Homo sapiens: one gene and its partners. The protein of the gene in region 2 purifies or fractionates together with the protein of the main gene of each other region. This does not show direct contact. Each region holds a gene or a part of one and is shown on either strand. Other genes may lie near its edges. The genes, in order: SFXN1, ADCK1 and CFAP20.

Region 1 (3,500 bases), on a different chromosome or scaffold from region 2:
GATCACCTGAGGTCAGGAGTTTGACACCAGCCTGGCCAACATGGTGAAATCCCATCTCTACTAAAAAATATAAAACTTAGCTGGGCATGGTGGCAGGCGCCTATAATCCCAGCTGCTCGGAAAGCTGAGGCAGAATTGCTTGAACCCGGGAGGCAGAGATTGCAGTGAGTCAAGACAGTGCCACTGCACTCCAGCCTGGGCAACAAGAATGAAACTAAGTCTCAAAAGAAAAGAAAAGAAAATGTGAAACATTCTTAACTTTCTCTTTTGGCTGGCCTGCATCAGTTGAGAGTTTGTGAATACCAGCCTTGATTTCTAGACTTTCTATTGTGTTTCCACTTATCTACATATTCTGATGCCAATACCCACCATTTTAACTTGACAGTCAATTTTAATCTTGGGTAGAGCAACCGTCCCACACGCTATTCTTCTTTTTCTTTTTCTAAGATGCCTTATACTAATTTATTCTCCCAGATAAACCTTAGAATTATTATTATTATTATTATTATTATTATTATTATTGTGATGGAGTTGCACTCTTGTCGCCCAGGCTGGAATGCAATGGCGTGATCTTGGCTCACTGCAACCTCCGCCTCCTGGGTTCAAGCAATGCTCCTGCCCCGGCCTCCTGGGTAACTGGGATTACAGGCACCCGCCACCACATTCAGCTTTTTTTTTTGTATTTTTAGTAGAGATGGGGTTTCACCATGTTGGCCAGGCTGGTCTTGAACTCTTAACCTCAGGTGATGCCCCTGCCTCGGCCTCCCAAAGTGCTGGGATAACAGGCATGAGTCACTGCACCCGGTCAGAATTATTTTATCAGTTTTACAGGTGACCACAGTTGTAATTTGACTGAAATCGTATTAATCTGGAGACAACTGACACCTCTACAATCTCCAGCCTTTCTCCCCAGGCCTACTGCACATTTCTCCATTTACTCAAACTTAACATGATTCCAAATGTTTTCATCATTGACGCAAATTTCTGGGTGCGTTTCTTCCCAAGTACTTTACATTTTTAAAAAATTGTTCTGGCCGGGTGCGATGGCTCATGCCTGTAATCCCAGTACTTTGGGAGACCGAGGCAGGTGGATCATGAAGTCAGGAGATCAAGACCATTCTGGCTAACACTGTGAAATCTCGTCTCTACTAAAAATACAAAAAATCAGCTGGGCGTGGTGGCGGGCGCCTGTAGCCCCAGCTACTCAGGAGGCTGAGGCAGGAGAATGGCGTGAACCCGGGAGGCAGAGCTTGCAGTGAACCAAGATCGCGCCACTGCACTCCAGCCTGGGCGACAGAGCAAGACTCCGCACCCTCCCCGCCCAAAAAAAATTGTTCTTATGAAGTGAATAAAAAACAATGTCTAATTGCTTGTTGCTTTTATACAGGAAACTACCATTGTGTCTATTATAAATAGCCCCCTCATTGTATTTTAATTTGTTCTATGGTTGTTCAGTTGGTTATGGTCTCTTCTTTTTTTTTTTTTTGAGATGGAGTCTTGCTCTGTTGCCAGGCTGGAGTGCAGTTATGCAATGTTGGCTCACTGCAACCTTCACCTCCCAGGTTCAAGCGATTCTCCTGCCTCAGCCTCTGGAGTACCTGCGACTACAGGTGTGCGCCACCACGCCCGGTTAGTTTTTGTGTTTGTAGTAGAGACGGGGTTTCACCATGTTGGCCAGGCTGGTGTTGAACTCCTGACCTCAGGTGATTTGCCTGCCCTGGCCTCCCAAAGTGCTGGGATTACAGGCGTGAGCCACCTCGCCTGGCCGAGTATTCTCATACATATTACATACATTATGGAAAAAAAACAAAGGGCTCATGTCCAAGTTTGGGAAAAATGATTAAGCAGCTTTATTTTCACTCCTGGACTTTTTGGAAACTTCGAACAGTTAATAGAATGTGACATTCTCAAGAGTGGAATGCAAACTTTCTCAAATTTGACTACCAAAATCCTCTCCCTTTTTCTCTCTGCCTCTCTTGATCCCTCTCTCCCTTCCCCCACCCCCCTCTTTTCTTTCTTTAAGTATTCCATAGGATCCCTTTTTTTTTTTTTTTTTGAGATGGAGTGTCACTCTTGTTTCCCAAGCTAGAGTGCAATGGCGCAATCTCGGCTACTGCAACCTCTACCTCCCAGGTTCAAGCAATTCTCCTGCCTCAGCCTCCCGAGTAGCTGGGATTACAGGTGCGTGCCACCATGCCTGGATAATTTTTTGTATTTTTAGTAGAAACGGGGTTTCACCATGTTAGCCAGGCTGGTCTCGAATTCCTGACCTCTGGTGATCCACTTGCCTTGGCCTCTCAAAGTGTTGGGATTATGGGCGTGAGCCACCACGCCCGGCCAGGGTTCCTTTCCTTTAGAGGTCTTTTTGGGAAGTTCAGCTCTAGTGTTCCATTATTTCGTGCATTGCTCACTACTGATGTGGGATATGCATTCTTCATAATTAAAGAAGTACCACCCATTATGCCTAGCTGATTAATTATTTTATGGGAAATAGATATATAATTTTACCTTCTTTTGGGCATCTATCAAGATGTGGCTTTTTTGCTCTGACATATTGATGTGATAAATTACACTAATAAATGTCCTAAATATAAATCACCTTTTCATTCTCGGAATAAATTCTACCAGTTCATGTTTTAACACAAGGTTGGATGCTATGTGTTGGTGTTTTACTTTGGATTTTTGCATTATCAATTTGTAAGACAGGCCACTGTTTCTTTTTGTATTTTTTAAATCATTTATTGTATCAGGGTTGCAATGAATCGGGAAGCATTTCCTTTTTTTCTATGATCTTGTAACATTTTAAAATTAAATCAGCTTTATTGAGGTATAATTTAAATACCATAAAAGTCATCCACTTTAAGTGTCCAATTTGCTAAGTTTTGAAAAAATATACTCAGTGGTGTAACCGCCCCGGAATTGTGGTACAGGATATTTCCATGTCTCCAACAGTTCCCTTGGGCCCCTCTGGAGTTATTTCCTCACTTCCTGCCAACCAATGGATCTGTTTTCTAACACTATATTACCTTTTCAAGAATTTCACACAAATGGAATCATACAGTGAGTAGATACATATTTTGTGTATTTTGTGTCTGACCTCTTTGACTTTGCATAACACTTTTGAGAAGCACCCTGTTGTTTATATGAGTTGGTTAATCTGTTCGATGGATGGATGTACCAGTTATTTATTTATTTATTATTATTATTATTATTATTTTGAGATAGAGTTTTGTTCTTGTTGCCCAGGCTGGAGTGCAATGGCGTGATCTTGGCTCATCGCAACCTTTGCTTCCCGGGTTCAAGCGATTCTCCTGCCTCAGCCTCCCAGGTAGCTGGGATTACAGGCATGTGCCACCATGCCCGGCTAATTTTTTATATTTTTAGTAGAGACATGGTTTCTCCATGTTGTCCAGGCTGGTCTTGAACTCCTGAGCTCAGGCAATCCTCCCGCCTCCGCCTCCCCAAGTGCTGGGATTACAGGCATGAGCCACTGTGCCCGG
Region 2 (3,434 bases):
ATGCCTGTAATCCCAGGACTTTGGGAGGCCAAGGAAGGTGGATCACTCGAGGTCAGGAGTTCAAGACCAGCCTGGCCAACACGGTGAAACCCCGTCTCTACTAAAAATATAAAAATTAGCTGGATATGGTGGTGGGTGCCTGTAATTCTAGCTACTCGGGAGACTGAGGCAGGAGAATCGCTTGAATTCGGGAGATGAAGGTTGCAGTGAGCCGAGATCACACCACTGTACTCCAGCCTGGGGGACAGAGTCAGACTGTGTCTCAAAAAAGAAAATAAATAAATTAAATAAATAAATAAATAAAAAGATCTGAGATCAAGAGAACCTGAGTCACAGTCTCATCTATAGGACAAAGAGCACTGGCCTGGCTGACAAGTCCCAGGACCAATTAGTGGAGAGATACACATCACGGCTTCCTGACTTCAAACTTGGGATACTTAGATGGGGCTGAGACTCTCAGAAAACATTTCAAACTTTAACTTTGCCTGCAGGGATATCTGGAGATTGGGAAGCTCAGGCAGGGCCCTGTAGACTGGTGGGGAAAGGTGGCAGCAAAAGCAGGACCCCTGGGGCAGGCCAGGGGGCTAGGAGGGGAGGAGAGGGAGGAGCCCACACTCACTCAGCTAGCGCTCTGATGCAGCAACGTGACATGTTGAGAAAGGAGCTGGCGCTGGCGCGGGTGCCCAGGGCGGCCTCAATGCCACGCAGCAGGTCGTTGGTCTTCAAGATGAGCAGCATCTGGCGCGGCACGTGGTTGAGGAGATGGCTGATCTGGGGGAGGTAGTTGGCCGCGTTGTTGCGAATCTCTAAGTCCTGAAGCAGCAATGGGGCAACAGAAACAGATGGTTGGTATGGGCAGTGGGGCCAGGGGTGGCAGGGGTCTGGCAGGCTGTGACCAGAGGGCTGCAAAGAAGCCCCAGGAGGGAGCTTCAGGCACCGCTGTCTTGGCACTGCTAGGAGCACTCCCCATAGAGAAGTCTAGCACAAGGCACTGTATAGCCTGACAAACCCGGAAGGGGATATCTCAGCCAAACTTCTAGGAAAGCGTTGGATGTGACACAGTATACATTGCGAGAGACCAGGTTATTCTCCATGGCTTTTTCACTGGCCGCAATTTTAGATCAGGTCTGGAAGGACCCCCAGAAGCCAGTACCAGCTGAGTCTGGTCTCCTACCCCTCCAAGCCTAGCTCAGGCTGACCTGACTTCAACCCAACTCCAAAGTCCTGCCCCATAGCCTGCACCCTGCCAGACCATGCTGCTGCTCACGCTCCATTGCTTACCACTGTCCTCGCATGAGAGCCAGTCTCATCCCACCTGTGGCCCAAGGTCTGATGCCCTGGCCTAGGATCCAGGATTAGCCCTTCATGCTGGTCATCGCCACAGCCCTTGACCTACCTGGTCTTTAAGTTTGGGGTCTGGCCTCCCCACGATCCCTGTCCCTACACTCTTCACAGCTCTAAGCAGATAAATGCCCCCAGCAAAATCCTAAATATAAGTGTGGTTCTGACCCCTTTTCAGTCTCCATAGATATGATGATGATGGTGACGATAAGCACCATATATTGAGCATTTACTAAAGAAGCCAGGCACTTTGACAATGTTGGCACGTATTAATTGATTTAATCCTCACAACAACCCTATCGGTGTATTATCCCCATTTAAGATGAGGAAACACAGGCATTGAGAAGTTAAGTGCTAGTAAGTGGTGAGATGGGACGTGAACCCAGGCAGTCCAGCTCCCGAGCCTGTGCCCTCACCATCTGGCAATACCACACCTCCTCACCTCACCACAGGACTCGACGACTCTGGGTAAGTCCTCTAATCTCTTTCAACTTAGTGTCCTCACCCAAAAATTGGGAATGCCAATACCCTCTGTGCCCGCCTCCCAGCAGCACTGGGAAGGTCACCAGAGATAAGGTCTGAGGAAGCAATCAGTGCCAAGTCATAATGAGGAGACCCGGGGTGCTGCTGAAAGTCTTTACCACCCCACTCCTCTCCGAAGCAGCAGGGCTCTCAGTCCTTTCAGAAGCACGTGTGCGCTGCTGAGAACAGAGTCACTGCAAAACTTGAAATGTCTTGAACTGCCTCTCAGGCAGGAACTATCAGACTGGAACATCTCAACACAAAGCCAGACCTTAAGAGGCACCTATGGCCACAGCTACAAGTCCCCTGCTCACCACAGGGACCCCCCTCTCAGCACGGTCGGACTGGCCTGGCAACAGCCTCTCAGCAACTTCAGTCACCCAGGCTACTACCGGGGGACAGCTCTCAGAGCAGCAGTCTCCAGCTAAGACACATCCTGATGGTGGGTGTCTGCAGTAGACCCTGTTGGGTATCTACCTAAGTCTTCACCCCAATCTCCTTTATTAAAAGAACCCAGGCTCACACCTGTAATCCTAGCACTTTGGGAGGCCAAGATGGGCAGATCACGAGGTCAGGAGTTCGAGACCAGCCTGGCCAACATAGCGAAACCCCATCTCTACTAAAAATACAAAAGTTAGCCAGGCATGGTGGCATACACCTGTAGTCCCAGCTACTCAGGAGGCTGAGGCAGGAGAACCACTTGAACCCAGGAGGCAGAGGTTTTGGTGAGCTGAGATCACACCACTGCACTCCAGCCTAGACAACAGAGCGAGACTCTGTCTCAAAAAAAAAAAAAATTTTGTTCACTTGATCCCTTGGGGTCATGCTCCATAGGGAGGTGCAGCCCCTCCCTGGCCCCAGCAGGGAATCTGGATTGAGTTCAGCCAGGGCTAGCTCTGAGCTCTCAGCCCCTTGCCACATGACTGGTTTAGGCATGGACACGTGACCTGCGTCAGCCAATGAGGCAAGAGGAAGCTGTTGGAGGGAGGCCGGCACTTCTAAAAAAGGTTTTCTTGCTCTTAAATGATATAAGGAGACATAGCGCCTTATTCCTGCCTCTAGCCACACTGAATGAAGATGTAAAGCTTGGAACCACACAGTCATCTTGAAATTGTGGTGGAAAGCCCAGAGAATCACAAGTTAGCCCAGGGACCTGAATTTGTTGATCCACTGAGCTAACCCACCCATCTCCAGGCTTCTTGTAGGAGAGAGAACAAATTCCTTATGTTTAAGCCACGGTTAGTTGGGGAAAACATTCTCCTTCATACAATGTTGGAGGTTCCCCTAATCCTCAATGAGAGCAGGGCTCAGAAAGACTGAGCCTGTGGATCCCTGAGACCAGGCTGACCTGGAGTAGCTAACTTTATGATCTATCTGGGTTGTCTAAAGTGAGCAAATGGAGGAAGTGTCTCCAGAACATTCACAAATGCCCCTCTACCAGACCCAGTCCCAGGATGGCAGGGACCTTATAAAAAGATATACAAGACGGGGTCTTTGCCTTCCAAGTACTCACCACATAGTTGGAGAGTTAAGGCGTGCAGACAAATAACTACAAGGGGCATGGTGTACTT
Region 3 (3,376 bases), on a different chromosome or scaffold from region 2:
TTTTTGATAATCATGACAAGGAAAGGAAGTTTAATTCCCAGCGTCTTCTTGGGGTCTGCAGGGCATGTGATATATGTGGTGCTGTAGAGAGAGGAAATACTAATAAACACACTCCTGGACTCTCTTCCTTTGTGGTATGCACAACAATAACACACGGTCCAAGAGGATACACTGGAAAGCAGATCTAAAAGATTCAGACACGCCACCCAGTGAATCCCTCAGCCCTAAGTCAGCGGCTGCTTTAACAAACGCTGGACCCAGAAACAAAAGCTTAACACAGGACTAGACAGCAGCAATAAAATATCTGAAAAACAAAGCCAGACAGTGGATCTTAGAAGCTCCTCCAGTGAGAGAAGACCTCAATTCTGGTCCAGGGGAGCCATCGAATGACAGAAAACCAAAACTGAGACCTCTATGGCACTGAAAACCACACTGTCCACCCACTGGATGAGCTGTACAACACTGCCCACTCCCCACCCCAACACACACTTTGGTTAATAATATAGCTAATACTGACATCGTGCTTACTATGTGCTAAGCAAGGCTTTACGTGTTTTATATATATTCATTTATTTACTCCTCGCAATAACCCTATAAGGAAAATGTACTATTATTCTGCCCATTGTACAGATGAGTATGCTAAGGTCTGGGGGATTCAGTAACTTGCCCATGGTAAGCTCTAAGTGGCAGAGATAGACTCACATCCGGCACTCTGACTCCGCAGTCTGTGCTATTAACCTCTATGACGTACTGCCTCCCTAGTATATGATGTCTCTGGGAGAACAGAGGTGGCAACCTACCTTACATTTGTCCCTTCAATCTCTAGCACCAGGGACTGGATGTCATTATCAGTGATTCTTTTGATGTGGCCATTCCGTACCTACAAGAAAGAAAATTCGATTAGTACTGAAATATCTGACAAGGCTGAATAGGACTATTTAAAGAAAACCACGGTAGCCCAAGAGGCGTACAAAGAAATTTGTGACACAGCACACTGAAGCTTATATGTAAGTAAGCCAAGCTATTACCTCTAGACAGGGTCACACCAACCACCAAGGGAATCCCAGGTAACTTGGCAATCCCTAAATCTGGGGAAACTTCTCCCCAAATACATCAACTCAATTTAGATTCAGCTAATATCTACTGAATGCCTACTATGCACCAGGAATATCACACACATCCCCTTCTCACTTAAGCCTCACACAATAAAAACAACAAGGCAGGTGATACTGTTTTCATTTTACAAATGTGGACATTGGCACCCCGGAACTGCAAATGCCAAACCCTAAGTAGGAGACTAAGGATTCAGCAGCCTTTCCACTGCCTCATACTGCCTCGTAGATTTCTTTCTTTCTCTTTCTTTTTTCTTTTTTCTGAGACGGAGTCTCGCCCTGTCGCCCAGGCTGGAGTGCAATGGCGCGATCTTGGCTCACCGCAACCTCTGCCTTCCAGGTTCAAGCGATTCTCTTGCCTCAGCCTCCTGAGTAGCTGGGATTATAAGCGTGCAGCACCATGCCCAGCCGATTTTTTTTTTTGTATCTTTAGTAGAGACGGGGTTTCACCATGTTGGCCAGGCTGGTCTCGAACTCCTGACCTTGTGATCCACCTGCCTTGGCCTCCCAAAGTGCTGGAATTACAGGCATGGGCCACTGCGCCCGTCCTGCCTTGTATATTTCTTTGGCCAGAAAAGCCAAAGAAAAGCTGAGTGTTACTGAGGAGGGCAGCAACAAAAAGTGAAAGCATTCCTCCCCTGGAGTTATCCTGCTTCATGCTTCCCTATCTGCTTTTGCCTAATTTTCTACTTTTTAAAGCAGGAATTCAATTCCCATCTGTGCCACACACAGATGCCTTCTTTAGCATTTTCAGCCCACACTGACCTCTCTTTTCTCTGATTTGTTTTTCTGGCTCATGTTGTCTAGACGACATAATTTAGCACCTCATCCTACATTGTTTTGTATTGTTTGCTGCATATGTAGGAGGTAGATGATGGGGAGGAATCAATATTCAATACAGATTCCTCCTCTCAAAATATTTAGGAAAGAACAATTATCTTCAAGCATTAAACTTTTAAGCAACTAATATGGACAGAACAGAGATATGCAAAGGCACTTTCAAAACAGGGCTGGGGCCAGGCACAGTGGCTCATGCCTGTAATCCCAGCACTTTGGGAGGCCAAGGCAGGAGGATAGCTTGAGCTCAGGAGTTCAAGATCAGCTTGGGCAACATAGTAAGACATTGTTTCTACAAAAAATTAGCCAGGTGTGGTGGCGTGCACCTGTAGTGTGCCTATAGTCCCAACTACTTGGGAGGCTAAGGTGGGAGGATCACTTGAGCTCAGGAGGTCCAGGCTGCAGTGAGCTGTGTTTGTGCCACTGCACTCCAGCCTAGAGGAGTAGGTGACAGAGCAAGACCCTATCTCAAAAAAAACAAAACAAAAAACGAAAAAAAAAAAACAAAACCAAAAAAACATGGCTGGGGTCAGGCATGGTGGTTCACGCTTGTAATCCCAGCACTTTGGGAGGCCGAGGCGAGAGAACTGCTTGAGCTCAGGAGTTCAAGACCAGTCTGGACAACATGATGAAACCCCATCTCTACAAAAAATTAGCCAGGTGTAGTGGCACGTGCCTATCGTCTCAGTTCCTCAGGAGGCTGAGGTGGGAGGATAACCTGAGCCTGGGAGGTCGAGGCTGCAGTGAGCCGTGATTGTGCCACTGTACTCAAGCCTGGGCGACAGAGTGAGATCCTGTCTCAAAAATGAACAAACAAACAAAAAAACAAGGCTGGACTATTAGGGCTGAATGGAATAACATATGAAAAAGATCAACTAGGTTTAGAACAGGAGACATCAGAAAGACAAACATACGGTCTTTCTTTGTGGAAAGGGCTGTGTTAGGCTGCCATAATCAATGACTCAATCACACTGACTAAAGCTCCTCTTGTTCACTCATCAGCCTGCTGATTACGATTTGGCTATTAGACTTGCATATGGGGATAAATCAGTGTTGGGTCTGGTAGTTTTATTTTTCAACATAAATTATTAATAATATGTTTCTGTTTTTAGACATTAGTCTCTGTGAGCTCTGTCACTGTGAGTCTGATCCACTCATGGTCTGCCTGGTGTTCTAAAGGTGACATCTGATGTCACTGCCCACCTTTTCCACAACTGCAACCAAGTCTTGTCTCCTTAAAAAAGAATAAGCTCAAGCAAGAGCCAAGACCAGTTATGAAGCATCATTTCTATCTTCGACAATGCTTAGCACAGTGCTAGCCATAAACTAAGCGTTCAAATATTTGCTGACTTCTGGAATCTGTCACCCTAAGAGCTGGCACATATGAATAGGTTCAAGGAGGGTTTTAAAAATTCCTGGATAACACA

The links.
Region 1: the proteins of ADCK1 (region 2) and SFXN1 purify together in Homo sapiens (co-immunoprecipitation; one large-scale study listed by IntAct). This does not show direct contact.
Region 3: the proteins of ADCK1 (region 2) and CFAP20 purify together in Homo sapiens (affinity purification with mass spectrometry, with the first as the bait; one large-scale study listed by BioGRID). This does not show direct contact.

Annotation. Positions count from the first base shown.
Region 1 is NC_000005.10:175,502,560-175,506,059, reverse strand, and holds part of SFXN1 (sideroflexin-1), read right to left. Parts: intron 1-3,500. UniProt on the Homo sapiens protein: Amino acid transporter importing serine, an essential substrate of the mitochondrial branch of the one-carbon pathway, into mitochondria.
Region 2 is NC_000014.9:77,928,897-77,932,330, reverse strand, and holds part of ADCK1 (aarF domain-containing protein kinase 1), read right to left. Parts: intron 814-3,434; coding exon 620-813; intron 1-619. UniProt on the Homo sapiens protein: Appears to be essential for maintaining mitochondrial cristae formation and mitochondrial function by acting via YME1L1 in a kinase-independent manner to regulate essential mitochondrial structural proteins OPA1 and IMMT.
Region 3 is NC_000016.10:58,116,072-58,119,447, forward strand, and holds part of CFAP20 (cilia- and flagella-associated protein 20), read right to left. Parts: intron 881-3,376; coding exon 801-880; intron 82-800; coding exon 1-81. UniProt on the Homo sapiens protein: Cilium- and flagellum-specific protein that plays a role in axonemal structure organization and motility. Microtubule inner protein (MIP) part of the dynein-decorated doublet microtubules (DMTs) in cilia axoneme, which is required for motile cilia beating.